Linked DNA regions of Homo sapiens: all the other regions are linked to region 1. Evidence: fine-mapped expression QTL. A gene starts in region 1. Each other region holds a variant in brackets. All regions are shown on one strand. Distances are from middle to middle. Region 1 holds the start of ITGB1BP1 (integrin subunit beta 1 binding protein 1). Region 2 overlaps ASAP2 (ArfGAP with SH3 domain, ankyrin repeat and PH domain 2). Region 3 overlaps LOC101929643 (a long non-coding RNA gene). Region 4 overlaps ASAP2 (ArfGAP with SH3 domain, ankyrin repeat and PH domain 2). Region 5 overlaps ASAP2 (ArfGAP with SH3 domain, ankyrin repeat and PH domain 2). Region 6 overlaps IAH1 (isoamyl acetate hydrolyzing esterase 1 (putative)). Region 7 overlaps ADAM17 (ADAM metallopeptidase domain 17).

Region 1 (4,065 bases):
GGCGATTGGATGCTCCGCAGGCTCATCAAATGCAAAGATGTCTCAAGCTGAACCCATCATCCTCCCCTCCAGATCTGCTCCTCTCCTCTCCTCTCCCTGTCAGGAGATTCTATTATTGCTGGAGGAAGCCAGAAAATCATGATTTCCTTGCTGTCCTTCAGGCCCCACATCCAATCTGGCACCAAGACCCACTGTATACCCCACCTGAAGAGCTCTCTGAGCCAGCTCTCCACCAGGGCCCCCGTCATCCTAAACCATGGGCACAGACACTATTTTTTTAGAAACTGATGAATGTGATGGATCCTCACCCTATAAAAATGCACATCCATACAAAGTTTGGCATGAATTTAAGGAATTCACAAACCCAAGGATATTTCGTGGATAAGGGACCTTGTCCTACTGGATTCCCTAACACTTTAAATCTACCCCCACACTGCAGCCAAAACGATTAAAATGATTTCTTTCAAACATGAATCTAATGCCACTAGCCTGCTGAAAATCTTTCACTGGTTCTCCAAAGTCAGAGACCAAAGTCAACGTTCTTCAGCACGACACGCCAGGTCCTCCAGGACCCAGCTCCTAATCACCTTTCCACTTCCATCCTCCACAACCCGGGCACAGTTCATTGATCTCAGCAAGGCAAAGCTGCTCCTGGTTCTCAGCGCGATGCTCCACGCGCCCCTGCTTTGCACCGCCCGGGACGTCCTTCACCTGTCAGGCACTTGGCTACTTCTTACCTTTCAAGGCCCGTTTCAGGCTGCAGGCCTTCCTGGGATCTCAAGGCTGGGGTAAGGGACCCACAGCTTGAGTGTACCCCCTGATCACAGCGCCACGATCTGCTGTGGTCTCTGATCTCACTCTCCCAGCTGCACGCTGGTCAAAGGCGGAGCTCGGTGACTCCTCTGCATTGCCAGGGCGCCTGGCAGGGGACGCGCTTACTGAAGCCGAGAACTTTCTGGGGAGGTGACACCCCAACAGCGATTCCCATGTACCAAACGCCTACCACGTGCCATGCACGGTGCTAGGTGCACAGATCCCTCTCACCCTCACCCTCACCGACCAGCAAGGCTGCAGGATAACAGCCCCTTTCAAACGAGGATGCCAAAGCGCCCGAAGAGTCAGTGACCTGCCCAGGGTCACCAGAGTAAGGACGGATGCGGCCAAGCTCGGGGCCTAGGGAGAGCCGGCTCCGAAGTTCCTCCCAGACGCCAGCCTGCTTGGCACCTGTCTGTCACCGTGATGGAGCACCTTCCAAGCGCTGGGTGCGGAGGATGTGACAGCGAAGGGGACAGACAACCCCGACCCTGAGAGGCGGGAGGCGGCCGAAGCGGGGCAGAGGAAGAGGCAAGGAAACGGCCCGCGGCCGCCCGCCTTGCCGCCCCTCCGGGGCGACAGCGGCTCGGGAAGCTGCAGTCCGCAAGCCCACGCCCGATCTGCGTGGTTCCAAGCTCCTCCACCCGCGCCCCGGGAGCGCGGCCCCGCCCGGAACCAAGCCCGAGCCCAGGCATCCCTCCTCCGCCCGCCCCGCGGCCCCACCCATCCTTCCTGGCCGTCCGCGCCGCTCTCGGGACCGTGTTCCCGTCAGGCCTCCGCGAGCTCGGCCCCAAGCGGGACGAGGGCTGGGCGCTCACCTCGCAGCCGCGGGCCCATCCCCGGGTTGCGGACTTCGGGGTCCGCGTGGGAGTGCCGCGGCCTTTGGCGCCCAGGCAGCTACTCCCGTTCCCGCTCCAGCGCCGGCTTTTCCAGCCCTCCTGCCCACGTCCGCCGGGCCGCGCCTCCAAGACTATGCGCAGGCGCAGTCCTGACGTCCTACCCCCGGTTCCAAGACCCCAAGTGGTGGGAAGCCTCGCGAGCGGCGTCCCCCGACCGGAAGTCGAGGGGAGGAGTCTAGTGCCGCGGGCTCCGGAGTGACGGAAGTTGTGCTCTTGGTGAATGGGGTTCTTCCTTTTTTATTTACCGGTGGCTGTGCTTCCAATTTAGGAAGACCCCGGCGACCTGTTCCTCACCCCCGCTTCGCCCTCACACTTTCGGGATGTCTGCGATTCCTGCTGAGGAGAGCGACCAGCTGCTGATCCGACCCCTGTAAGGGACCAGCGAGAGAGGGAATGAAGCCACGGGCTGTGAGGGGCGCGAGGGGTAACCGGAGACTGGCCTCCTCCGTCGCCCGCGCTCCCACCTACCCCGGCAGCCTGCCTTTGGTCCGCGCTTGCGGGCCAGGCTTCTCAGGCTCGAGGGGTTGGAGGACCGTTGATCGGAAGGGGCCTGCTATAGAGTGAACGGGATTTTGCTTTTTCATCAGTTTCAGGGGAGGGTATGTTGGAGTCGGAAAAAAAAAAGTTTTACGGGGCCACCGCTCGCTTTCGTACACGCTAAGAAGCGTTTTCACTTAGCACAAGCACGGATCTCTGCGCGTCAGGGCAAGCTGTGAGGGAGCCGGTGAAGCTTATGACCGACAGGATGAGAGGAGGACCTGAATGAGGCTACAGCCGTGCAGGGAAGAATTAAGTCTGTTTCTTAACACCAGGGCTTCACATGTGCCAGAAGTTAGAAAATATTAGGGACTTGCCGTGAGTTTCGATCTTCTCAGCTCAGGCCCTAGTAGAATAAGGAAGGTGTAAAGCTGGAGAAGAGAAAGTGCAGAGGTGTTAGGGACAAAAACTCAGCCCTCGACTGTCCATAAGGAGAGTGGCCTTTCAGTGGACACGATCCTCATCAGTCGGGAATGCTGCTGAAGGGGAGATGCAAATGTAGAGAACTTGAATTCCTACAGATGAGCATTTCGAACCCACAACATGTTTATTGTTAGATACTAGTTGGCACAACATGAATATACGCTTTCCAAAAGGTAGAAAGTATCTCCTTTACACAATCATTCAGTAAGGCTTCATTGAGCACCTGCTTGGGACATAGTCCGTTTCCTTCTGCTTAGTTCACACCTGTCATGTCTTCCTGTGATGAGCAAACACTGAGCAAGTGTCAAGCACCACACATGGGGATATAGACGCAACAGAGGGCCCAGTTAATTGCTCTCGCTCTTTTGGAGAGAATTACAGTGCACAGTGGGAAATATTGGAGAGATACTTTGGAATAATAGGAGACTATTACTTTGAAGTCAGACCTGAAGTCCATTATCTACTTGACCAATTAGTAGGACAACAATCTCACTGAACCCGTTTTCTCATATGGAAATAAGATAAAACTTGAAGAGTGAACATCGCGGTAGGTGCTTTGTAAATAATAGCTAATCTAAGAACGCAGGCAGGCATTGCACTGAGCACTGTGAAAGTATGGAAAAGGGATTTCTGACAGATTGAGGAAAAAAGGATACCTCGTGGATCCTGAAAAATGTGATGCCTGAGCTGAGTCCTAAAGAATGAGTAGGAGTTAAAGACTGGGGGGCCCAGGATGTTCTAGGCAGTGGAAGTGGCACATATGAAAGTGAGAGTGGTCACAGCTTGTGGCCAGATTCCTCATGGCTGTAGCTAAAGAGTTGAGTTAGCAGATGAAGCGACAGGCAGTTGAGGTCCAGTTTAGGAAGCACCTCGTATACACAGGAGTTTGGACCTTTATCAAGTCAATTACAGGGAGCCAGCGAAGGCTATTAAGCAAGCATGGATATTGTGGGAATTATGTTTTAGGAAAATCTCTCCTGGCAGCAGTGTAGCAGATGAATAAAAGCATGGATGAATAAAAGCATGGATTGAGTAGAGCAGATTCAGTGAGATATTGAAAGATTCTAAGTCTAGCTGACGAGAGCCTGTAGTGAGTGATGTGAGTGTGAGAGAGTATGCAAATGAGATCTTCAGGATTTTGTGGCTGATCAGCTGTATCTGGAAGGGTGGTTGTGGGGAGGGAAGGCAGGGCAGAGAGGATGTTATGATCAGATTCCTAAGTTTGGCAGTTGGGAAAGGGTAGTGTTATTCACTCAAGGAGTATAAGAGATGGGGCAACTCTGGAGTAAATTTGGGAATTTGGTTGTTTCGTAACAGCTTTATTGAGATACAGTTTACATACCATACAACTCACAATTTACATACCATACAACTCATTTAAAGAGTATAATTC
Region 2 (4,065 bases), 120 kb before region 1:
AATTTTGTGCACCATTCTTCTTCCTGTTTTTGGTCACATCTGGCTTATCTCATATCTTCCAAGCCTTGCTTTTGCTTTCCCTCGGGCATTTAAAACATTTCAGTTCTGTCTGGCTAAGACTCACAGTGCTACCTCTTGTCCAGAAAGAATAACAATTACCACCTACCTGCTTGGAGGCGTGAAAGAATGTTTATAAAGCAGTTGGAAGATCTCCAGAGAAATGCCAGCTTAATATAAAGCAAGATTTTCTTACTAATGGGTGAGATTCTCACCTGCAGAAGTCTGTGAATTTTCTCTGCGGTGATGCAGGATGAAAGGGAAAACCAGACGGCTCCAGAAATGTGACATGTGTGAAATTAAAGTGCTTATGAAGTCAGCCTAGTTTCAGGGGTTCTTTTCCTCTTCCCCAATGGATGTGAGAATCCTGGAAAGACTCCAAGGGCCACCTCTGTGCTGAGAAGTGGCTTTCTAATGAAAGGCTGCATTTCAGGGCAGGTTTCTGAAAGGTTTGTTACAGATATGTAGTCTCTGTCTCCAGTGTTAGAGGATTGTTAGTGAAAGATGTCCTCACGGTCTGCAGAACCCGCTCCACATGAAGATCAGCATCCATTGAAAGCAGGAGCCAATGGGTGCTGAGGAGAGGACAGAGTTGCAGCATGAGATCTGAGGTGACCCTGGGCTAAGGAGTTTTCCCTCACCCATGTTGATAGAGGAAATGGAAAGCTCTACCAAGCAACGTGTGTATCCATCATCTTTTTTTTTTTTTTTTTTTTTGAGACGGAGTCTCGTTCTGTTGTCCAGGCTGGAGTGCAGTGGCACAATCTCAGCTCTCTGCAAGCTCTGCCTCCCAGGTTCATGCCATTCTCCTGCCTCAGCCTCACATGTAGCTGGGACTACAGGTGCCCACCGCCATGCCCGGCTAGTTTTTGGTATTTTTAGTAGAGATGGGGTTTCACCACGTTAGCCAGGATGGTCTCGATCTCCTGACCTCGTGATCCACCCGCCTTGGCCTCCCAAAGTGCAGGGATTACAGGCGTGAGCCACCGCGCCCGGCCTTTTTTTTTTTTTTTTTCCCAAACACAGATGATGTGAGTTAGAAGCCTTTTTTTTTTTTTTTTTTTTTGAGACGGAGTCTCGCTCTGTCGCCCAGGCTGGAGCGCAGTGGTGCAGTCTTGGCTCACTGCAGCCTCTGCCTCTCGCGTTCAAGCGATCCTTCTGCCTCAGCCTCCCGAGTAGCTGGGACTACAGGCACGTGCCACCATGCCCAGCTAATTTTTATATTTTTAGCAGAGACGGAGTTTGACTGTATTGGCCAGGCTGGTCTTGAATTCCTGACCTCGTGATCTGCCCACCTCGGCCTCCCAAAGTGCTAGGATTGCAGGCATGAGCCACCATGCCTGGCCAACTTTTTTTGTTTGTTTGTTTGAAACAGAGTCTCACTGTGTCGCCCAAGCTAGAGTGCAGTGGCACGATCTTGGCTCACTGCAGCCTCCGCCTCCCGGGTTCCAGCTATTCTTGTGCCTCAGCCTCCCAAGTAGCTGGGATTATAGGCGCGAGCCACCACACCCAGCTAAGTTTTGTATTTTTAGTACAGACGGGGTTTCTCCATGTTGGCCAGGCTGGTCTCGAACTCCTGACCTCAAGTGATCCACCCGCCTGGGTCTCCCAAAGTACTGGGATTACAGGTGTGAGCCACCACCTGTAATACCAAAGTACTGGGATTACAGGTGTGAGCCACCACGCCTGGTCAGAAGAC[A/G]TTATAGCTAACCTTACTAGGGAGGTAGTAAGGTTCTGTTGGGACAAGCAGTAGTTTGTGGCTTTCTCATATGTGCTGCACCTGGCAGAGGGGCATCCTGGCTTGGCTGCATTGGTACTAGTACAGCAGGACTCTGCCCAGTGCTGTCAGGCTTAGGTTAAGTGTGAGCTGATTGTCCATATTAGTAAGGCTTGTCTCGTCACTCAATATAGACATCTTGCTACCAGAGGTCCTCACCCTCAGTACTTCCATAGACTTTCTCCTAACTTCTTGTATTGCAAATGTCTTAGATTCTTAAATGTCTTACTTTGTTTTTTAATTAAACAAGAGCAATGATCATAGTATCATCTTTTTGGGAGGAAGATTTAAGTCACTGTTTTAGACATAAACTAATGAACTATGCTGAAATCTAGAGACATCCCCAGTGGCTTGGGGTACGTGGGAATATCCGCCCTTGGATTAGTCCTGGACTATTATTAGGTGTCCGTTTCTGACATTTGCTTTTTAATATTCTGACACTTTTTCTATTGGTTGCCCTTTTTCCTGCTGTCAGTGCTTGGGTGCCTCTAAGGTCTCTGTTTCACGATGCTGCGAGCTGAAGAGCAAGGTGACTTGGCTTGTTAGACTTGGGTGCAAATTAGGAGTCCATAGGCTTCGCTTGAGGAGGGCTTGAGGGCTAGGGCTTTGAGTGAGGAGGGGAGAGAGAGTACCTTGATGGACTTGCTGACAGTCGCTTTGGGCCCCTAGAAACCTCTGCCATTTAGATTTTGGCATGGCCTCATTTATAGTTGGAAATTCCTTATCTAAGACCCAAAAGACTTCAACGCTAAGCTATGTTCTATACTCACAAATCTCTAACCAAAAACAAAAGCACATTGTTTGATCGAGACAATGAACAAATAAGGCTGGTGTCAGATATCTACATTTTGGTTGTGGCATAGCCACATAATAGATTTCCATTGGACTTGGATACTGTTTCTTTTTGGGGTTGGGAGGGAATGCTGTGATACGGTAACCCCCATACAGAGAAAGTGGGAGAAGCCATATTGGGCAAAGATAGCATGGTGAGGCCTTGGGCGTGGGAGGGAGAACTCACAGAGACGAGGACTGGGCACCTGCTGGGTGCTATCCATGCGCTGGTGCTGTATGGGGCGGTGACCTCTGGCAACTCCTGCCTGGGCAGGGGACACAGATGCTTTTATTAGAAGACATGTGCCGGGACAGCCACTGGCAGCCTGCGGAGCCCTGAGGGTACAGCATTGGAAGCAGGGAGCAGTGACTCCCCGCCCTGAGCCCTGGGTCCCTGCTTCCCTGGATCCCTGAGGGTGGAGGGGCACTGCAGTATGGCACTTGTCCATCTGCACACAAGCCTGCTTGCAAGGTTTAGAAATCAGTTTCTTCACAATTGTCAAATGTGTGTAGGACATGCTGTTTCTGTTTGAAAGTATTAATGAACCTAAAACAGGGTTTGTTTTTGTTTTTGTCATTGTGTGTTTTCTTAATTGCTGGCTATTAAAGGGACAACTGCCACGATGTAGGTGACCTCAAACTTAGAAAAAAATTGTTTGCCAAATCTACAAGGTACTGTGTGGAATGGCTCTAGTGGGGATGTAGATAGGGGGTGGAAGGGCTGTAGGGGGTGTAGATATGCGGTGGAGGGGCTGTAGGGGGGGTGTAGATACAGGTGGGAGGGCTGTAGGGGGATGTACATAGGTGGGAGGGCTGCAGTTGTGGGGGTGTAGATACAGGGTGGAGAGGCTGTAGTCTTGGGAGTATAGATATTGGTGGAGAGGCTGGAGTAGTGGAGTATAGATATTGGTGGAGGGGTTGTAGTATTGAGGTATAGATATTGGTGGAGGGGGTGTAATAGTGGGGTATAGATATTGGTGGAGGGGCTGGACTAGTGGGGTATAGGTATTGGTGGAGGGGGTTGTAATAGTGGGGTATAGATATTGGTGGAGGGGCTGGAGTAGTGAGGTATAGATATTGGTGGAGGGGCTGGACGAGTGGGGTGTAGATATTGGTGGAGGAGGTTGTAATAGTGGGGTATAGATATTGGTGGACAGGCTGGAGTAGTGGGGTGTAGATGTTAGTGGAGAGGCTGGAGTAGTGAGGTATAGATATTGGCGGAGGGGGTTGTAATAGTGGGGTATAGATATTGGTGGACAAGCTGGAGTAGTGGGGTAAAGATATTGGTGGAGGGGCTAGTGTAGTGAGGTATAGATATTGGTGGAGGGGCCGTAATAGTGGGGTATAGATACTGGTGAGGGGCTGTAATAGTGGGGTACAGATATTGGTGGAGGGGGTTG
Region 3 (4,065 bases), 140 kb after region 1:
ACCCCTTCTCAAAAAAAAAAAAAAAAATTAACTGGATGTGGTGTCATGTGCCTGTAACCCCAGCTGCTCGGGAGGCTGAGGCAGGAGAATCGCTTGAACCCGGGAGGCAAAAGTTGCAGTGAACCAAGATTGCACCACTGCACTCCAGCCTGGACAACAGACAGACCAAGACTCCGTCTCAAAAAAAAAAAGAAAGAAAAAAAAAGAATCTGGGCTGGACACAGTGGCTCATGACTATAATCCCAGTACTTTGAGAGGCCGAGGCAGGAGGGTCACTTAACCCCAGGAGTTCAAGACCAGACATAGTGAGACCCTGTCTCTACAAAAAATAAAAAAATTTTTGTAGATTTTTTATCTACAAAAATCTGGGCGTGGTGGTGGATGCCTGTGGTCACAGCTACTCAGGAGGCTGAGGCAGGAGGATCACTTGAGCCTGAGAGGTCGAGGCTGCAGTGAGCTGAGATCGTGCCACTGCACTCCATCCTGGGTGACAGAATGCAACCCTATCTCAAAAAAAAAAAAAAAAAAAAGAACCTGCTAACCTGCTACTCTAGACCCCCTGCCTTGAGGACGGTGGCATTCACATTGCAGCTATTGTGAAAAATGTCCCCAGAGTTTACAGGCTACAAGCTAACAGTGGCACTCCGACTGGGAGCCCAGAGGGCAGGCTCTAGGATCCTGATCAATGAGATCTGCTTATGAAAACATCTTAAAACCTGGACTACAGAAAAAAGCACTCTTGCTTCCATACTGTTCAGATTATGTATGCAAAACGAGTAAGAACTGCCCAGCCAGTGTGCCTCTCTGCTTAATATAGAGCTTAGAAGTCCTCTAATTCTGTTTTGTTTTGTTTTCTGAGACAGGGTCTCACTTTGTTGCCCAGGCTGGAATGCAGTGGTATGAACATGGTTTACTGCAGCCTCGACCTCCTGCGCTCAAGCGATCCTCCCACCTCAGCCCACAGAGTAGCAGGGACTACAGGCACATGCCACCATGAGGTTTTGCCATGTTGCGCAGACTGGTCTTGAACTCCTGGGCTCAAGCAGTCCTCTGGCCTCAGCCTCCCAAAGTGCTGGGATTACAGGTGTGAGTCAGAAGTTCCCTAATTCTGATATGTGTGGTCACTACGCAGTTCTGTGCTTTGCTTCCAAAGGACTGATCACCTTGAAGAACCAGAATATAAAGAGGTTACGTTGGGGGAACATTACCATTTATTTATTGGCTTACTCTGAAAGACAAGTAAGTTAGTGCAGAATCACAACGTTGGCTCATTATTGGTATCATGGGCAGCCTGCAATGTTTGCTCATCATATCTATCTAGTTATATATTGATTATTTACATTCTGCTTTGTTCAATAAATAATTTGAAAGCATACATCCATTAAAAACTTCAGGGCCGGGCGCGGTAGCTCACACCTGTAATCCCAGCACTTTGGGAGGCCGAGGTGGGCAGATCACGAGGTCAGGAGATCAAGACCATCCTGGCTAACACAGTGAAACCCTGTCTCTACTAAAAATACAAAAAAATTAGCCAGGCGTGGTAGCAGGCACTTGCAGTCCCAGTTACTCGGGGAGGCTGAGGCAGGAGAATGGCGTGAACCCAGGAGGCGGAGCTTGCAGTGAGCTGAGATCGCACCACTGCACCCCAGCCTGGGCAACAGAGCGAAACTGTGTCTC[AAAAAAT/A]AAAAATAAAAAATAAAAACTTCAGTTAGGCTGGGCACAGTGGCTCACACCTGTAATCCCAGCACTTAGGGAGGCTGAGGCAGAAGGATTGCTTGAGCCCAGGAGTTCAAGATTAGCCTGGGCAACATAGCAAGAACCCATCTCAAAAAAAATTATAATAAAAATAAAAACTTCAGTTAATAACATAGATGCGAATTTGAAATATACAGAGGAATGTGGTTGCCATCTAGTCCGATGATGTTTTCAAGCTCTTGTGTTTTGGGGTTTTTTTCTTTTAGCTATAGTACCCTATCTGCAAAATAAATCTTTTGCAGGATCGTATTGTATAAAATGGATGAAAACAGAGCTATTGGGTTTGAAGCACTCCTGAACCCTCTCATGGAACCCTATGTCTTCCTGGAGTCTACAGAGCTATTGGGTTTGAAGCACTCCTGAACCGTCTAGTAGAACCCTATGTCTTCCTGGAGTCTACAGAGCTATTGGGTTTGAAGCACTCCTGAACCGTCTAGTAGAACCCTATGTCTTCCTGGAGTTTACAGAAAAAGAGACTCAGGGATTTTCCCAAAGCACACTGCAAGTTAGGGGCAGGAATGACAGCCCAGACCTTCTGGTTTCCAGTCCAGGGCTCAACTGCCTAAACAGTGGCATCTCTTCAGGCAGGCCCTGTCAGAGGCAGGTTAGTATTTTTATTTTACTTCTTTTTTTGGTAGAGACAGGGTCTTGCCATGTTGACCAGGCTGGTCTCAAACTCCTGGCCTCAAGTGATCCTCTCACCTTGGCCTCCCAAATTGCTGAGATTACAGATATGAGCCACTATGCCCAGCCCAGGCTAGTTTTTTTTTGTTTTTTTTTTTAAAAGAAACTGTCTTGCTCTGTCACCCAAACTGGAGTGCAATAGTATGATCACAGCTCACTGTAGCCTGGAACTCCCCGGCTTAAGTGATCCCCCCACCACCTGAGTAGCTGGGACTACAGGCGCATGCCACTAGGCCTGGCTGTTTTCTATATTTTGTAGATACAGGGGTCTTACTATGTTGCCTAGGCTGGTCTTGAACCCCTGAGATCAAGCGATCCTCCTGTCTTGGCATTCCAAAGTGCTGGGATTACAGGTGTAAGCTATTGTGCCCAGGCCTCCAGGCTAGTTTTTGATTGCCACCTGACAGATGAGTTTGCAATCCAACATTTGCTGGTAACAGGATCATCCACCCAGCACAATATACTCAAAAGGAGCAGCTGGAAGGCTAGTCATTCACTAATTGCCACCTCCAGTGTCTCAATAACGAGGCATTCAAGTTGAGCATTTAAGGCAAAATTCAAAGAAATTAGACATCTATTTTGGGAGACATGAGAGGGCACAATGCTTTCCTACACAGATGAGAGCTCTTAACTCTTTGTGAGGTAGAGGGATATTTGCCTTTAAGAAAGTAGGTGGATGAGGCCAGTCATGGTGGCTTATGCCTGTAATCCCAGCATTTCGGGAGGCCAAGGTGGATGGATCGCTTGGGCTCAAGAATTTGAGACCAGCCTGGGCAACATGGCAAAACCTCATCTCTATAAAAAACACAAAAATTAGCCAGGTGTGATGGTGTGAGCCTGTAGTTCCAGCTACTCGGGAGGCTGAGGTGGGAGGATCACTTTAGCTCAGCAGGTGGAGGTTGCAGTGAGCTGTGAACCACTGCACTCCAACCTGGGTGACAGAGCTGTACCCTGCCTCAAAACAAACAAAAAACCCTGGCCCGGCACGGTGGCTCACGCCTGTAATCCCAGCACTTTGGGAGGCCAAAGTGGGCAGATCACTTGAGGTCAGGAGTTTGAGACCAGCCTGGACAACATCATGAAACCCCATCTCTACTAAAAATACAAAAAATAAGCCGGGCATGGTGGCAGGTGCCTGTAATCCCAGGTACTCGGGAGGCTGAGGCATGAGAATCGCTTGAACCTGGGAGGCAAAGGTTGCAGTGAGCCGAGATCATGCCACTGCACTCCAGCCTGGGTGACAGAGTGAGACTCAGTCTCAAAAAAAAAAAAAAAATACCCAAAAACAAAGAAAACAAAACAAAACAAAAAACCCCAGAAAGTAGGGGGGTGGCGCAGCTTAATTTGGGTATATAAGCTCTCTTCATCTGATTTTAACCTATAAAGGACTCAGAAGAAAATCATTAGTACCCATTATTACATTAGAAGTAATATCTCCCCCCAAGCAATCAGGAAGTTTCTTCGCTTAGGATGGAATATGTTAGCAATAGGCTTTCCTTCACTTTAGGGAAGCTGCTCATTCTGCTATCTGGACAGCAGGAAGGAATTCTTGGCTGAAAATTCAGAAGTCAAGGGCAAGCCAAATCTTCCAAACCCTTTATCACTTAAGGCCTTCTAGTCATGCAC
Region 4 (4,065 bases), 24 kb before region 1:
AAGAACTAAGAATGGCTTTTATATTTGTAATTGGTTGGGAAAAAAAAATCAAAAGGATATATATATATATATATATATATTTTTTTTTTTTTTTTTTTTTTTTTTGAGACGGAGTCTCGCTCTGTCGCCCAGGCTGGAGTGCAGTGGCTCGATCTCTGCTCATTGCAAGCTCCGCCTCCCGGGTTCACGCCATTCTCCTGCCTCAGCCTCCTGAGTAGCTGGGACTACAGGCGCCCGCCACCACGCCCGGCTAATTTTTTGTATTTTTAGTAGAGATGAGGTTTCAGCATGTTAGCCAAGATGGTCTCGATCTCCTGACCTCATGATCCGCCCGCCTCGGCCTCCCAAAGTGCTGGGATTACAGGCGTGAGCCACTGCGCCCGGCCTCAAAAGGATATTTTGTGGCACATGAAAATTGTGTGAGATTCACTTCAGCACTCAGAAAATATTATTGGAACATTAGCCACACCTGTTTTTTTATGTAGTCTGGGGCTGCTTTCACACCACAGTGGCAGAGTTGAATACTTGAAACAGAGATGCTAGAATCCACAAAACCAGCTGGGTGCAGTGGCTCACACCTATAATCCCAGAGCTTTGGGAGGCCGAGGCAGGAGGATTGCTTGAGACTAGGAGTTCGAGACCAGGCTGGAAAACATAGTGAGACCATGTCTTTACAAAAAATTTTGAAAGTTAGCCAAGCATGGTGGCGTGCACCTGTAGTCCCAACTACTCAGGAGGCTGAAGCGGGAGGATCACTTGACCCCAGGAGTTCCGAGGCTGCGGTGAACTGATTGCCGCACTGCACTCGAGCTTGGGTAATAGGGCAGGACCCTGACTCAAAAAACAAACACAAAGGCCAGGCACAGTGGCTCACACCCGTAATCCTAGCACTTTGGGAGGCCGAGGTGGGCAGATCACCTGAGGTCAGGAGTTTGAGACCAGCCTGGCCCACATGGTGAAACCCCGTCTCTACTGAAAATACAAAAAATTTGCTGTGCGTGGTGGTGCACACCTGTAATTCCAGCTACTCGGGAGGCTGAGGCAGGAGAATTGCTTGAACCCGGGTGGCAGAGGTTGCAGTGAGCCGAGATTGTGCCACTGCACTCTAACCCGGGTGACAGTGCAAGACTCCATCTCAAAAAAAAAAAAAAAAAATTCACAAAGCCTAAAAAGTTTACTATCTGCCTCTTTAAAGAAAAAGTCTGCTCACTGCTGTCTCAGAGGATCAGGCCTTCCCTGCGAGTGTTCTGTAGTTAGGGATGACTGCCGGCCAGGGGGTCAGCCAGGTCAGTGTAGTGATGTCTGCAGAGACATTTACACCCAGAGACACAGATGGAAAACAAATGGCTAGACTGGTCAAATGGGAGGGGTCTTTGTTTTATGGAATAAAACAAAGTTCCTTTTCAGTTCCTTCAGCGTATGAGCAAAACCCATGTGATGTTTTCTCTCCCTTCATTCTGGGACTGCAAGCATTGAGGCCAGACAGGGTTCATTCCGAGCAGCGAAGGGAGTGTCGACAGACGGGAGCGTACAGTGGAAAGAATCCCATCCTTGCCTTCCCCTTCCCTTCCTCCCTGGTCTTCCTCTTCTGCTTCTCCAGCCCCCGTCCTGTGCCTGGCTTTATGCTAGGTCCAGGAGATCCACCGGGGAGCTGAAGCCACTGGCACTGGTCCTTAGCTCTGGAGTTGACGGATCTTGTGTCACACCTTTTGCAGATGAAAATGCTGACTCTCCAGAACCCATTTATCCAGGGCTGCCAGGTGGCAGGTTCGAGATGAGGGACCCCTCTCTGCCAGCCCTGAGAACTACTTCCTCACTCATGTGTTTCTACCTTGTGGCTTTGGGGTGTGCTGGCCCAGAGG[T/C]TCATGGATGGGGCTTGAGCCCGTGGTCAGCCACATTGGTTCCCAGAAGCAGGGACGGCAGAGGCATGGACAGCGCTGACCCAGAGTGCTCGGACCCGTCCTGGCAAAGCCATCTGGGCCTGAGGTTAAGGTTCAGCCCTGCCCTTTCATGTGATGGGACCAAGGCAGGGAAGGGGCTGAGCAGACTCGGGGCGGGGCCAGTGGCCAGTGCCCAGCATCACTCCAGACCCTGGCCATCGGTGGCAGGCTCACGTGGACAGAGTGCTCTGGAAAAGCCCTGGTTTTAGGATCAGAAACGTTGAATTTAGCACTTTCCTCAGGGCCTCTCATTCTTCCTTTTCCCATAAAAAAGAGACAGCTAAGTGACAGTGGAGGAAACCACCTCACACACTCTGAGCTTGAACTCAGAAGGTTCTCTGATAAAAGGGGATGAGAAAGGGGCAGGTGCCCTCCGGTAGCAGTAAATCTACTTTTTCCCTGTCTTTGTAGGGCTGACAAGTCCACCCCACTGACCAACAAAGGCCAACCGAGAGGACCTGGTAATTATTTAATTTGGGACTGAGTTTGTTTCTGCTTGGTCCATGGGGGCAATGTGGGGGATGTTTCCTGCCAGGTGGTCAGGACTGAGGGAGGGCCCAGCTGTCTGCCATTCCACAGCCCTCCTGCCCCCTCCCCTCCTGCCCCCTCCCCTCCTGCCCCCTCCCCTCCTGCCCCCTTCCCCTCCTGCCCTCTTCCTCTCCTTCCTTCCCTCCTTCCTTCCTTCCTCCCCCACTCCTGCCTTCCTCTGCTCCCTTCTCCTCCTCTCCCCCTCCCTCCCCCATCTCATGCCTTCCTCCCCCGCCACCTGCCTTCCTCCACCCCTCCCTTCCCCTCCCCTCCTCTCACCCTCCTCCCTGCCTTCCTCCTCCCTCCTCCCTCCTGCCATCCTCCCTCCTCCCTCGGCCTCTGAGACCCCTGCTCCTGAGCAGCTCAGTCCTGGGGCCCCTCACCTGTCCCCTCCTGCTGACATGGCAGGCTCACTGGGGGACACTCGCTGCCACACAAGCTCTCCAAGGTCTGCATCCAAGTCAGAAGGTTCCCTTTCCCCTCAACAGATCGGAACACCTGGGGAAACCTGCTTTCAGACACACCCTGTGGCTTGTACATTGTTTACATCTCATGGCTGTGATTGATGGGATGTCTTAAGCTGCTTCATTTTTGCCCTACAGTGGATCTCTCTGCAACGGAAGCTCTGGGTCCTCTGTCCAATGCTATGGTCCTGCAGCCCCCTGCACCCATGCCTAGGAAGTCGCAGGCAGTAAGTGACGAGCCCCCTTTCCTGCCTCTCTGCTCTAGCCAGGGGGGTGCAGGTGGTTTCACAAGGGCTCAGGGGAAGCAAGTCTTCCCCTCTTCCCCTGGCTGGGGCAGGGCGGGGCTCTTCTTGGTACCTGACTGCTTGGATCTGGGCAGCTGGTGGGTTTGGCCCTCCTGCCGCAGCTCCACAATGGGCCCACTCAGAGTACCCTGCCCCGGCCGCTTCGTTTCCCAGCCCTTGGCCCCTTCTCTCTGCTTGGTGGGGAGCTCTTCCCTTTTCTCTCCCTGGCTCCTGAGCTGCACTGACCTGCCCCACCTTGGCATCTGCAGGCTTCTCAGGCCTAGGTACGGGACTCCTGAGACCGGGGAAGGCAGGGTGCTTGAGCTCTCTGCCCTGAGAGCTGAGGCCTGCAGCCACACTAACCGTTGTTCCCTCTCCTGACCCAGACCAAGTTGAAGCCTAAGCGGGTGAAAGCGCTCTATAACTGTGTGGCTGACAACCCCGATGAGCTCACCTTCTCCGAGGGGGATGTGATCATCGTGGACGGGGAGGAGGACCAGGAGTGGTGGGTGAGTCAAGGGTGGGCCTGGGAGGTTCCTGGGGGCTGAGCCACGTCCCTGCCCACCTGGCTGGAGAGACGGGCTTGCAGGTGAGGTTTTCTCAGCCTGAGCAGTCCAGATGTAGTTCCTGGTGCCTCCGCCCCTTAGCATCCTCAGGAGCTGCTTCCTCCATGGACACCCCCTTCTGAGCAGGCCTGATTATTCCCCAGGGTGGCTTCCTCCCCTGTTAGGGTGCAGTTTCCACAGCACTCATGAGGGCCTGAAATGACACTCCTTCATTTTGAGGTCTTGAGTTTCTAGGTCATCACCCCCCATTGCTGGATTAGTGGAATCGGGTGTCTGGAGAGAG
Region 5 (4,065 bases), 150 kb before region 1:
ATTTAGTTTGGCCTGTTTTTGAACTTTTTATACTGCATGTATTCTTTTGCTCAACATTTTTGTCAAGTTCACTTGTGTTGTGGGGTAAGTTTGTTCTCTTCCGTTGCTGTGTAGCATTCTGTTGTACGAATGTCCATCATCAGTTTATTCATTTTACCATCGACATTTCGGTTTATCCAGTTGGGGGCTGTTTTGAGGAGTGTTAGGACAGCCTGTCCATGTCTTCTGTTGTGGATGTATATTTACTCTGAGTAATTTTAATTTTTTAAGATAATACCAAAACACGCCCTTCTCATCTGTCCTTAGGCACACACTTTCCTCAGCTGTGACTTAGCTCAGACGTCTATTTGATCTTAATTCTTAGCGACACCTGCTATTCTTCAGGCCTGGCTTTATTCCCACAAGGGGGGAGGTTCGTTATTGCTCTGGCTTTAAACGGAGCCCACAGGTCACAGTGCAAGTCTACGCTTCCCAAAAGGCTTCTGGAAATATTTGACACTGTCATTAATGCTCTCTGTTACTTTCTGAAGAGTCGAATGCGTGGTGAGACAAAGCTGCCATCTGAATGTCTGTCTGACTCTTCTTGGCAAAGCCACCCTGGGGGCACGGACCTGGGTGTGTTTTGTTTTTTGTTTTGTCTACTGTCTTTCAGAAATGTCCCTTCTTCTCAGGCTGGCCTTTCGTCCGTGGAACGAGGGGAGAGGAGATAGGACGGGAGAGCGGAGCATGCTAGGGCTGCCTGAGTGCTGCAGGCCTCTGCTCTCCCCAGGGCAGCATCTTCGGGTTCTAAGAAGGAAGCCAGCCTCTTCCCACCCCTGCTGGTTCGCATTGAGAACTCAGGGTGCTGGGGACAAACCGGTGCTGTGCTGCCTGCAGTGTGGGCTCCCTGTCAGGGCTGGGAGGAGTGGGGTGCAGGGGCCGCTGGTGCTGTGGGAGGGGCATTTTGCATGGATCCTTGAGGCCAGGGCTCAGCAAACCTTTTCTGTGAGGGGCCAGAGATAGTAAATATTTTAGGTTTGGCGGGCCTCAAGGCGGTATGTAGGTACTTACATAAGAGAGGTGATAAATATCTACAAATTTTTTATTAATGAAATTCAAAATATAAAAATAATAATGGAGTACAATTTTTTGGTAATGCAGGTCTCCTAAGGGGAAGAGAGGAATTATTTTGCGGGGGGGAGGGGGCGCGCATAACATTTATCTTAATTAATTTGGGTTCAGTTGGTCTTTCCTGTGACCCTGTCCTTGCATTCATTGGAAATGTTCGTCTGGAAACACCCTTAGCTCACGGTTGGATAAAAGCTGTCCCGCAGGCCGTGTGTGCCCACCCTGAGCCAGGTCATCTCCTCAGATAGTGGGCTTGGCCCGCACCATTCAGCCTGTGGTGACACAGGATGGAGGCCCTGTAGGGTTCTGTGGGGGACCAAGAAGAGGTAGAGGAGCCCCCACATGGAGGAGGGTGGCCATGGGGTGATGTTGATGCTGAGCCCACGGGGGAACCATGGCCAGGGCCTCCGGGTGACCCCAGAGGTGGTGGCACCGCCCTCAGGCGGTACAGTGGGGCCCATGAACGGAGGAAGAGAAGCATGGGGTTGGGGACATTCAGAGGCCACTGTGCTGCCTGGGTGGCTGTAGCTCTTGCAGAAGGTGGCAAGGCCTGAGGAACTGAATTTGAAATTTGAATGAAT[CT/C]TTATAGAAACATTCCTCTGTGGCTACCCTGTTGGACAGCACAGGTGTGGAAAATGAGTGAACAGCTTTGTGGTGGTCTCTCCTGTGGTGGACTTCCCTTACCCACAGTGTGCACCGTCCCCACTGTCCCCACACACTGTCCCCGTCCCCTGTCCTGGCTCCAGCTCAGCTGAGCAGCAGAGATTGGAAGAGGCCCCTCGGTAACTTGAGAGGAACCTATAGAAGAGTTTGGGAACTCCAAACAGATGCTTTTAAAGTGGTTTGAAACAGTAGTTTTCCTCAGAAATATTTGGGACACATCCCCCTCTCTGGTTTTTGTGATAAGTTCACTCTGTAAAACTTGTTTGACAAACTGAAGGTCAGCTTCCACCTGGCCCCTGAGAATTAATGAGGTCTGGCCAGGCGGCAGCTGCAGTGCAGGCCCTGCTCCTGTCTTGGGGTCTCTTCGGTTCTTGCCTTTGTTTGTGTTTTTTACACATAAGTTCCCGTGAAAGTTGCTTTTCCCCCGCTCTGAGCTGGAGTGGAGTTTTCGTTTGGGGAGCATGGTAGTTGAGAGCCTGGGTCTGGTTAGAATTCTCAGCCTGATGGGTAGACATCTTTGCTTCCTCGAGACTCAAGCTTTGTTATTTTTTGTTGCTCTAAGATTTCAGTATTTTTTTTTAAATTTTTGATTATTGTGGGTACGTGGTATATATTTTTATGGGGTACATGGGATATTTTGATACAGGCATGCAGTGCATAATAATCACATTAGGGTAAATGGGGCTTCCATCACCTCAAAGCATTTAGCCTTCTTTTGTGTTACATCTCAATTATACTCTCTTAGTTATTTTTAAATGTACAATAAATTATTGTTGACCTTTGTCACCCTGTTTCTATCAAATACTAGATCTTATTCATTCTGTCCACCTATATTTTTGTACCCATTTACCATCCCCACTTCCACCCCACCTACCCTTCCCAGCCTCTGGTAACCATCCTTCTACTGTCAGTCTCCATGAGTTCAATTGTTTTCATTTTTTTTTTTTTTTTTTTTTTTTTGAGACGGAGTCTCGCTCCGTCGCCCAGGCTGGAGTGCAGTGGCGCGATCTCGGCTCACTGCAAGCCCCGCCTCCCGGGTTCACGCCATTCTCCTGCCTCAGCCTCCCGAGTAGCTGGGACTACAGGTGCCCGCCACTACGCCCGGCTAATTTTTTTGTATTTTTAGTAGAGACGGGGTTTCACCGTGTTAGCCAGGATAGTCTCGATCTCGTGACCTCGTGATCCACCTGCCTCGGCCTCCCAAAGTGCTGGGATTACAGGCGTGAGCCACCGCGCCCGGCCCTGTTTTCATTTTTTTTTATGGCTCTTTTCAGTTTATTTCATGAAGGAGTTACACTAGTCCAAGTTAAAAGCGGACCCCAAATGGTTACATTATACAAGCTGTGAGGTTTTTAAACTTGTGACAAGGGACAGAAGGGAAATTCTACTCATTGCAAGGAAATCCTCACTTAAACTACAGTGAGCCACAAGCATTTAAACCCCATGAATCTTCAGCTGATCGTCCTTAGCCAGTCCAAGCTCTACGAGGAACTGGCATAATATATGTTCTTGCACCTGTCACCCTGTAGCTGAATTACTTCTCCATATTCTGGATGCTCAATTACAGTACCATTGCAGGCAAACTTCTTAAACGCCTTCACTGGTTTCTTTTTGGTGTAATCATCAGCGATCCCTTGGACAGTAGTAAGGGCCTTCCTGCCGTTTCTCTGTTGAATTCTTATATGGATATAATCCTCAGTGCCAGCAGGAAGCAGGTCATCACCCTTACTTGCATCAGCAAAGGAGTTTAAATAGTGGAGGTTCTGGATAGTGGACATACGATCCAATTTCTTTTTCTCGGTGGAAATGGTCTGCGGAAGACGGCGGGCAGAGGGTACGGAAAGTAGGGAAGCGACGGGGCCCAAGGGGGAGGCTGCTGAGTCCTCGGCAGTGGCTCAGTGACTGGGGTGGTTTTAATTTTTTTTTTTAGCTCCCACAAATAATTGAAAACATGGAGTGTTTGTCTTTCTGTACGTGGCTTATTTCCCTTAACATAATAACCTCTATTTCCATCCACATCATTGCAGCTGACAGGATCTCATTCTTTTTTATGGCTGAATAGTACTCCATTGTGTATAGGTACCACATTTTCTTTATTCATTCTTCTGTTAGTGGACACTTAGATTGTTTCCAAATCTTGGCCATTGTGAACAGTGCTGCAGTAAACACGGGAGAGCAGGTACCTCTTTAGTATACTGATTTCCTTTCTTTTGGGTATGTACACAGCAGTGGAATTGCTGGATCATATCATAGCTCTATTTTTAGTTTTTTGAGGAACCTCCATACTGTTCTCCA
Region 6 (4,065 bases), 62 kb after region 1:
TTCAGCTTCCATGGCCTGGCATTTCCTACTAGTGCAGCCCTTACCAGCCCCCAGCCCAGCTCCTGCAGCCGGCACTCTCCAAGCAGCCCAGCCCTCCTGGGCCTTTCCTGCCTCTCTGCCTCTGTTCAAGGTGTCCTCTAGAACATCCTCCCTGGCGCCTCAGAAGATTCCGGTTACCACTGAAGGCTCCTTCTTCCCACTGCACCTTGTCCTCTGCTGGGTAGAGCAGCACACCAGTAACCTGCAAGGCTCATCAACATATACCCTAAACCCCGGGGCTGGCCCAAGTGGGGTCAATATTTAATGGCATTTTGAAACTGTCTAGATGAGTGGAGCAGAACTTACACAAGGGCCAGCACTTGGGTTTACCAACTGCCACCTCTATTTCTTCTCTTCAATAGGTTGCAAACTAAATCGCCTGAACTCTGTTGTTGGTGAATATGCCAATGCGTGTTTACAAGTGGCCCAAGACTGTGGGACTGACGTACTTGACCTGTGGACCCTGATGCAGGACAGCCAGGTACGGTGGCTTGCTCGGTCCTCTCGGGGTAAATAGGATCACACAGAAGTAAACCAGGTGTGTGTGCAGCAGCTTTCCCTAGAAAGGCCCTGCTTAGCTAAGACAGTCATCCCTTTAGCCAATGAAAACAAACAGGCTTGGGGGAGGGGAGGAATGGAGGTTCCAGGATGGCTCACAAGCCCAGCAGCTTAATTCAGCCAGGCTCCTTGGCTAGGAGTTAGTGCGCAGTGACATCAATGAGCAACACATGGCTCATATTTATGAACGTCCAGGCCAAGTTCTTCTTTCATACAGAGAATGGCAGAAAGCTAAAACTTGTTAATAGGTAAAACAATGAATTTAAATACAGTATTGGCTAATAAAACTGTTTGAGATATGTAGTTCTAATTAAGTTACTTTGTTTTAAAGCCTGAAAGCACAAATATAAAAGGTAAAAAGCAGGTCCCATGGAATGGTGCACTGACTCAGGAGACAGCTGGTTTCTGACGCAGTCACACATACACTTAGGGAGGACCTGGCAGTCCACTCCTGGGTTATCTGCCCTAGAGAAATGAAAACTATGTTCACACAGAACCTGGGTGTAACTGTTGACAGCAGCATTATTCCTACCTGCTGGAAACACGCCAGTGTCCTTCTGTGATGAATAGGGAAACTGGTGTGTCCGTGGAATGGGATACTACTCGGCAATAAAGAGGAGGAACTGACAAGCGCAGCAACGTGGGTGACTCTCGAGGCGCTTCACTGAGGGAAGGAAGCTGGTCTCTGAAGGCTACTTACTACATGAGTCCATCTGTTTTGGTGTCTCAAAAAGGCAAGACTTGGGCTGGGTGTGGTGGCTCACACCTGTAATCCCATCACTTTGGGAGGCCAAGGCAGGTGGATCACCTGAGTTCAGGAGTTCAAGACCAGCCTGGCCAACATGGCGAAACCCTGTCTCTACTAAAAATACAAAAATTAGCTGGGCATGGTGGAGCGCGCCTGTAATCCCAGCTACCCAGGAGGCTGAGGTGTGAGAATCGCTTGAACCCGGGAGGCAGAGGTCACACCACTGCACTCCGGTCTGGAGGATACAGGGAGACTGTCTCACCCTCCCCAGCCCACCCCCCAAAAAAAGGCAAGACTGCAGTAACAGAACAGGTCCATGGTGGCCAGAGGTTAGGGCAAGGAAAGGTATGGCTAAATTCAGGTTCCACACAGATACTGGTGAAGAGGGGCAGACAGGCACTGGTCTTTTTTAATTTTTCTGTGACCTTGTGCTACTCTTTTGTAAAGAGCTTGTTCAGTAGGGCACATTAAAGGCTACTTCATTGCTATGCTGGGATCCAGAGAGAAAGCTTGGACGGGACTGATGATATTTGAAGTACTCAAGGGA[A/AG]GGAAGGATCCAGTGTGCGGGAAGCTCTTTGGACAAACGGGAAGACTCACAGCCTCACCGGTTTCCTCTATTCCTAGCTGTTAGGTTTAGGCTACTTGGACAAAGCAACATAGAAAACAGCCAAGAAACTAACCCAAGTGCCAACTTTTTCCTCTCCCCTAAATATTAATCCATACCAATCGTTCCAATGACCTACACATTTATTATCCATCTGTAATAGGGAAAATGGTCACCAGTGGGAAAGTCATACTACCACGTGGATGCCGAGTCACCAGTCACCTTTGGAGGCCCTGAGAGCCTAAGCAGATCTGGACCCTAGGCCTCTAGTCTTCCTCTGAAACCCTGGAGTACTGGAACCTTCCAGAATTCCAGATTAGGAGGGGCCTTGGCAGCTTGAGTGCCAAAAGGGTCGACATCTAGAGTTCTGTTGTCTAGGAAAGGAAACTGCAAACTATTGGGCTAGTTTTGCTCACATGTCTTTTTCAATTTAATACAAAACTGAGAGGGTCGTCCTTAGAGATCATCTCATCTCAAACTGCCTAGATGAGAAAACCAAGGCCGAAGAAGAAGTGCTACTATTATATGATAGCATCTAAATTTCTGGTCTATTAAAAGTCACATAAGGCCGGGCGCGGTGGCTCATGCCTATCATCCCAACATTTCGGGAGGCTGAGGCAGGTGGATCACCTGAGGTCAGGAGTTCGAGACCAGCCTGGCCAACATGTTGAAACCCCATCTCTACTTAAAAATACAAAAATTAGCCAGGCGTGGTGGCAGTCACCTGTAATCCCAGCTACTTGGGAGGCTGAGGCAGGAGAATCACCTGAACCCGGGAGGCAGAGGTTGAATTAGGCCGAGACTGTGCCATCGTTCTCTAGCCTGGGCAACAAGAGTGAGACTCTAGCTCAAAAAAAAAAAAAAAAGTCACATAAGCTAGTTGGCCACCCAGATTCTAACAGAGCTCTTGGCTAGTGAGATTCTTCCCCAAGAAAGAAATGGCTGTATGGGTAAAATTCTTATAGTTCAGGGCCTGGTATGGCTGCTCATGCCTGTGATCCCAATACTTTGTGAGGCCAAGGTGGGAGTATTGCTTGAGCCTAGGAGTTCAAAACCAGCCTGGGCAACATAATGAGAGACCCATCTCTACAAAAAGCACAAAAATTAGCCAGGTAGCCAGGTATGGTGGCACGTGCCTGTAGTCCCAGCTGCTCAGGGGGCTGAGGTTAGAAAGATCGCTTGAGCCCAGGAGGTTGAGGCTGCAGTGAGCCATGATCATGTCACTGCACTCCAGCCTGGGCAGCAAAGCAAGACCCTGTCTCCAAAAATATGTGTATCTTTTTAAATATGTACTCTTGAGTTCAGGGCAATGGGAGGGAGACTGGACTCCTGTGTCCCAGCAATTACTGTTCTAGGTTAGATGGTAGAAGTTCTTTCTGCCTAAAAACCTGCCTAGAGTCAAAAACAATATTGACTCATGGGGCCCCTGAACACTCCTAATACCAAATTTTTCATTTTTGCTGATTACGTTAATAGGCCATATTTACCTGTTAAGGTTCTTTCAAATAACCTGAGAATCATGTCATATGATTCAGAAGACCTGGAATGAGGTCCCAGCTCACTTAATGGTGAGTGACTTTCATGAAACTCAATTCTATAATATGGAGACAGCACTATAGCACTAGTCAGGGTTCTCTGTGTGTTCAAACACCTACGTAAATAGCACATCAGTGCTACTGTAGTCCAAGACACCTCTGGTCAGATGCCTACAATGAAAGGGGCTGGTGATATTTCTGTCGCAGGGCCACAAATGAGAGAATGGTACACACTGGCATTTAGAAAAGTTATACCCTCCCTCCCCGGCCTTTTTGTGTGTGTGTGTGTGTGTGTGTGTGTGTGTGTGTGTGTGTGTGTGCGCGCGCGCGCGCGCGCTGTGGGGGGAGACAGTCTATCACCCAGGCTGGAACTCAGTGGTGCAATGATACCTCACTGTAGCCTCCAACTCCTGGGCTTAAGTGATCCTCCCATCTTCGCCTCCCAAGTAGGTGGGAATACAGGTGTTTGCCACCACACCCAGCTAATTTTTGTATTTTTAAAATTTTTTGTAGAGACAGGGTCTCAAACTCCTGTCTTCCAGTAATCCTCGGCCCCAAAGTGTTGGAATGACAGGGGTGAG
Region 7 (4,065 bases), 78 kb after region 1:
GCTGGGACTACAGGCGCCCGCCACCACGCCCAGCTAATTTTTTGTATCTTTTAGTAGACACAGGGTTTCACCGTGTTAGCCAGGATGGTCTCGATCTCCTGATCTCGTGATCTGCCCACCTCGGCCTCCCAAAGTGCTAGGATTACAGGTGTGAGCCACTGTGCCGGGCCATCAGGTTCCTAACATTTGGCAAAGTAATGTGATAGTGACAGATCCCAAAAGATAAAAACATGGGCAACATGTCATACTATGCACACGGAAAACCAAAATCAAGCCAAAATAGGACACAACTTCATTCACTAGGTCCCTGAAGACCTCCAGCTTTCTGTTTGCATCCTTATCACAAAACCTAGGATAGTTACAATAAAAAAGATAACAAGTGTTGGTGAGGATATGGAGAAGCTGGGACCCTCATACAATGCTGCTGAGACTGTAAAATGGTGTAGCCATTTTGGAAAACAGTCTGACAGCTCCTCAAAAGATTAAGCATAGTTACCACATGACCCAGAAATTCTATTCCTGAATAATATCCAAAGGAACTGTCCACACAAAAACTCATAGATAAATGTTCACAGCAGCATTATTTGTTATAGCAAAAAAGTGGAAGCAACCCAAATGTCTATCAACCAATGAATGAATAAACAAAATGTGGCATATCCATGCAATGGAATTTACCCAGCAATAAAAGTACATGAAGTACTGATACATGCTACAACATACATGAACCTTAAAAATGCTATGTTCAGTGAAAGAAGCCAGTCATACAATATGTGGTCACGAAACCATATTGTATAATTCCATTTATATGAAATGTTCAAAACAGACAACTCCATAAAGAATAGGGTGGTTAGTGGTTGCTCTGAGTTGTGGGGAATGGGGGGATTGGAGGATCATAGCTAAAGGATACAGGGTTTCTTTCTGGAGTAATGTAAATGTTCTAAAATTAATTGTGATGACTGCATAAATCTGAATATACTAAAAATCATTAAACTGTACACTTTAAATGGGCAAACTACATGAGTGTGAATTATGTATCAATAAAGCTATTACAAAATCAAACCAACCAACCAAGAGAGACAAATTTTGAAAAATATAAGAATGGGACAGATAGATATATCAGAGGAACAAAAAAACTAGAATAGCAAACTGAATATTGCTTTTTGACAATTTAAGTCAAAAAACATCGCAAGGGTAAAAAAGGAACATTATATACTGGTAAGGAACAGCAGATAAAGATGTAGAGATATGTCCGTTTATATACCTAGTAATAACATAGCTTTGAAATTTTTAAAGCAACAATTGACCGAACAAAAGATACTGGACACCTGGAAAGGTTAGCTCCAGAAAGATTCAAGTCCTGAATGTAAAAGGACAACTTATGAAGCTAATAGAAGCAGCTGTGGAAAATATCTTTTTAACCATCCGCCATGGCTTTTCTGAACCATGTGTTTAAAAAATACACACACACAACAAAATGATGGATTTGATTACGTTAAAGATTTCTGTTCTGAGAATGGCAACAGATAGGAGACGTATGCCCAAATGGATGATTACATAAGAACTCCTCCAAATTCACAGTAGTGAAATAACATGAAACCCAATTTTTAAAAAATGAACCAAATATATGAACTGGCTATTCACAGGAGAAATCTGAATAGCTGAAAAATATAAAGAGATGCTCAAGAAAAATGTAAGTAAGTGCATTAGGACAAGGGCTGTTAAAAAAAAAAGTAAGAACAAGAGATTACTTTATACTCATCATGCTAATAGGACAGCAGGGTAATTCCAAGCGTTGGCCAGAAC[G/A]TCAGGATAAGGAGTCCTCAGACACAGGCAACCTAGCAGTGGTGCTCTAGAGACCAGCACATCCTGCCTCTGTGACTACACAATGACACTCCTCAGTACCCAGAGAAACACACAGGTTCCTGAAGGGACGTAGGAGGATGTGATCTGTGTCCTATCTGGAATATCAAGGGGATGAAGGCAATGGAAGTAGCTACCACTTGGTGACTTGTAAGTAAAACACAGCCAATCATATAACTAAACAATATGTAGGTGTCCCCAACAGTGAAATACATATAGATACATATAGAAAAACTGGTTACCCTTCTAACTTGTATCCTGCTTCCTCCACACTATTCCAGTGCATAGATTCATGATAACATTCATTATCCCAAGATTGTCATTTTGATTGTTTCCAAAATTTTGCTATTAGGATGTAGCCATTAAAAACCTTGTTATATTATCTGTAGCACAATATGGGTAATTCTTTAAAACATGATACTGAATTTTTTAAAAGTAAATTTAAGGTAGAATATCATTTTGGCACATTAAAAACACATACATGCACAAAATAACACTATATGATCTTTCAAGGATATACACATATCCAGGCAAATATTAACCACAGTAGAGTGGATGTCTGTGAGGAGAAAGAGGAGAGTGATGGAAATGAAAGAGAAATAGAAACAGGTCTTAAACCCACCAAAGCCAAGTGTCACAAACTAAGGAGTGCCAGAAACTCAACCCGGCATATGAGATTAAAAATAAGGTGTCTCTCATCTGAACAAAACATAATCTTGTTTTTCAAAGACACACACACACTTGACCCACAGCATTCCAAGGAAGCAACAAGAACACGAACCTGTGCAGTAGGACACGCCTTTGCAAGTAGCATTAATCGCCTCCTGGCACTTCTTCTGGGCAGTCTCAAACTGACAGTTTTTACAGCAAGGACTGTTCCTGTCACTGGAGAAGAACAGCAGACAGGAACAGAGCAATTCAAATTATGGCCCCATATCAAATCAAACGCTACAGTTACGTTACAGTGACCTGAAGATCACCGGGGAAGACCTCCTGGCTCCGTCACCCACTCCTACATCATCAGACATCTCCGCTGCTAGAGCTACCTGCACACACTTTGTCCCTTCCTAATGTGCGTGAGGTCACATAAATGCCACACTATAGGAGAAAAGAATGGGAACACAGCAATCACCTGTGAAACATCTTGGTGCCCTTGGTTTTCATTCATTTAACGCATTAATTTAAAAAAGACAAGATGGGCTGGGCGAGGTGGCTCACACCTATAATCCCAACCCAACACTTTGGGAGGCCGAGGTGGGTGGATCACCTGAGGTCAGGAGAGTTCGAGATGAGCCTGGCCAACATGGTGAAACCCCATCTCTACTAAAAATACAAAAATTAGCTGGGCGTGGTGGTGCGCTCCTGTAATCCCAGCTACTTAGAAGGCTGAGGCAGGAGAATCGCCTGGACCCCGGAGACAGAGGTTGCAGTGAGCCGAGATCGCACCACTGCACTCCAGCCTAGGCAACAAGAGAGAAATTCTGTCTCAAAAAAAAAAAAAAAAAAAAAAAAGATGAGGCAGGTGGACCACGAGGTTAGGGGTTTGAGACCAGCCTGGCCAACATGGTGAAACTCCGTCTCTACTAAAGATACAAAAAATTAGCCGGGCATGGTGCTACATGCCTGTAATCCCAGCTACTCGGGAGGCTAAGGCAGGAGAATAGCTTGAACCTGGAAGGCAGAGGTTGCGGTGAGCCAAGATCGCGCCACTGCACTCCAGCCTGGTCAACAGGGCGAGACTCTCTCAAAAAAAAAAAAAAAGACAAGGAAAAAAAAAAAAGACAAGGTGGGGCCACAAGGCAATCCATAGCTAAGACACTCGGCAGCCAGAACTCTACTCCCCATCAGTATTTACAGCGTTAATATGCACTGTATCCAGTTAAATCTCAATTATTCACCAGAAAACTGAAGTTTAACCCTTTTACTTCTAAGCCAGGCACTGGTCTATCAGTGTATATAAAAAATGAAAACCTGGGTAACTTTCTAACTTGTAACCTACTTCCTCCACACTATTCCAGTATATAGAATCATGATAACATTCATATCCCAAGACTGTCATTTTGATTGTTTCCAAAATTTTGCTATTAGGATGTAGCCATAAAAAAACCTTGTTAAATCTTATACCCTTGTTAAATCTTATCTCTGTTGCCCAAAAGATTCTTTGGGCAGCCAGGAGCAGTGGCTCACGCCTGTAATCCCAACACT

Evidence for each region. PIP is the estimated chance that this variant, and not a neighbour inherited with it, causes the effect.
Region 2: its variant is fine-mapped to the expression of ITGB1BP1 in whole blood (TOPMed, PIP above 0.99).
Region 3: its variant is fine-mapped to the expression of ITGB1BP1 in whole blood (INTERVAL, PIP above 0.99).
Region 4: its variant is fine-mapped to the expression of ITGB1BP1 in whole blood (TOPMed, PIP above 0.99).
Region 5: its variant is fine-mapped to the expression of ITGB1BP1 in whole blood (TOPMed, PIP above 0.99).
Region 6: its variant is fine-mapped to the expression of ITGB1BP1 in whole blood (TOPMed, PIP above 0.99).
Region 7: its variant is fine-mapped to the expression of ITGB1BP1 in whole blood (TOPMed, PIP above 0.99). The same link has a PIP of 0.9 or more in cerebellar hemisphere.

The regions. Positions count from the first base shown.
Region 1 is chr2:9,421,742-9,425,806 of GRCh38, forward strand. It overlaps ITGB1BP1 (integrin subunit beta 1 binding protein 1), which reads right to left and starts at 1,787. Exons shown (of 7, transcript NM_004763.5): 1 at 1,632-1,787. CPSF3 (cleavage and polyadenylation specific factor 3) reads left to right here and starts at 1,913. Exons shown (of 18, transcript NM_016207.4): 1 at 1,913-2,082. The coding sequence starts at 2,033. RefSeq lists enhancers at 238-1,096, 1,090-1,139, 2,010-2,059, 2,100-2,149 and a silencer at 1,280-1,579.
Region 2 is chr2:9,301,068-9,305,132 of GRCh38, forward strand. All of the region lies in intron 3 of ASAP2 (ArfGAP with SH3 domain, ankyrin repeat and PH domain 2), which reads left to right. Among named protein-coding and RNA genes, the nearest start is that of ASAP2, 96 kb to the left of the region's middle. The variant A/G (reference allele first, on the strand shown) is at 1,757.
Region 3 is chr2:9,566,368-9,570,432 of GRCh38, forward strand. It overlaps LOC101929643 (a long non-coding RNA gene), which reads left to right. Exons shown (of 3, transcript XR_922777.3): 2 at 1,998-2,359. Among named protein-coding and RNA genes, the nearest start is that of ADAM17, 13 kb to the left of the region's middle. The variant AAAAAAT/A (reference allele first, on the strand shown) is at 1,678.
Region 4 is chr2:9,397,672-9,401,736 of GRCh38, forward strand. ASAP2 (ArfGAP with SH3 domain, ankyrin repeat and PH domain 2) reads left to right here. Exons shown (of 28, transcript NM_003887.3): 25 at 2,352-2,401; 26 at 3,071-3,159; 27 at 3,603-3,725. Among named protein-coding and RNA genes, the nearest start is that of ITGB1BP1, 24 kb to the right of the region's middle. RefSeq lists an enhancer at 2,873-3,436. The variant T/C (reference allele first, on the strand shown) is at 1,863.
Region 5 is chr2:9,268,081-9,272,145 of GRCh38, forward strand. All of the region lies in intron 1 of ASAP2 (ArfGAP with SH3 domain, ankyrin repeat and PH domain 2), which reads left to right. It also overlaps the pseudogene EIF1P7. Among named protein-coding and RNA genes, the nearest start is that of ASAP2, 63 kb to the left of the region's middle. The variant CT/C (reference allele first, on the strand shown) is at 1,689.
Region 6 is chr2:9,484,031-9,488,095 of GRCh38, forward strand. IAH1 (isoamyl acetate hydrolyzing esterase 1 (putative)) reads left to right here. Exons shown (of 6, transcript NM_001039613.3): 5 at 402-520. Among named protein-coding and RNA genes, the nearest start is that of IAH1, 12 kb to the left of the region's middle. The variant A/AG (reference allele first, on the strand shown) is at 1,893.
Region 7 is chr2:9,499,532-9,503,596 of GRCh38, forward strand. ADAM17 (ADAM metallopeptidase domain 17) reads right to left here. Exons shown (of 19, transcript NM_003183.6): 13 at 2,642-2,745. It also overlaps a transcript of IAH1 not described here. Among named protein-coding and RNA genes, the nearest start is that of IAH1, 27 kb to the left of the region's middle. The variant G/A (reference allele first, on the strand shown) is at 1,804.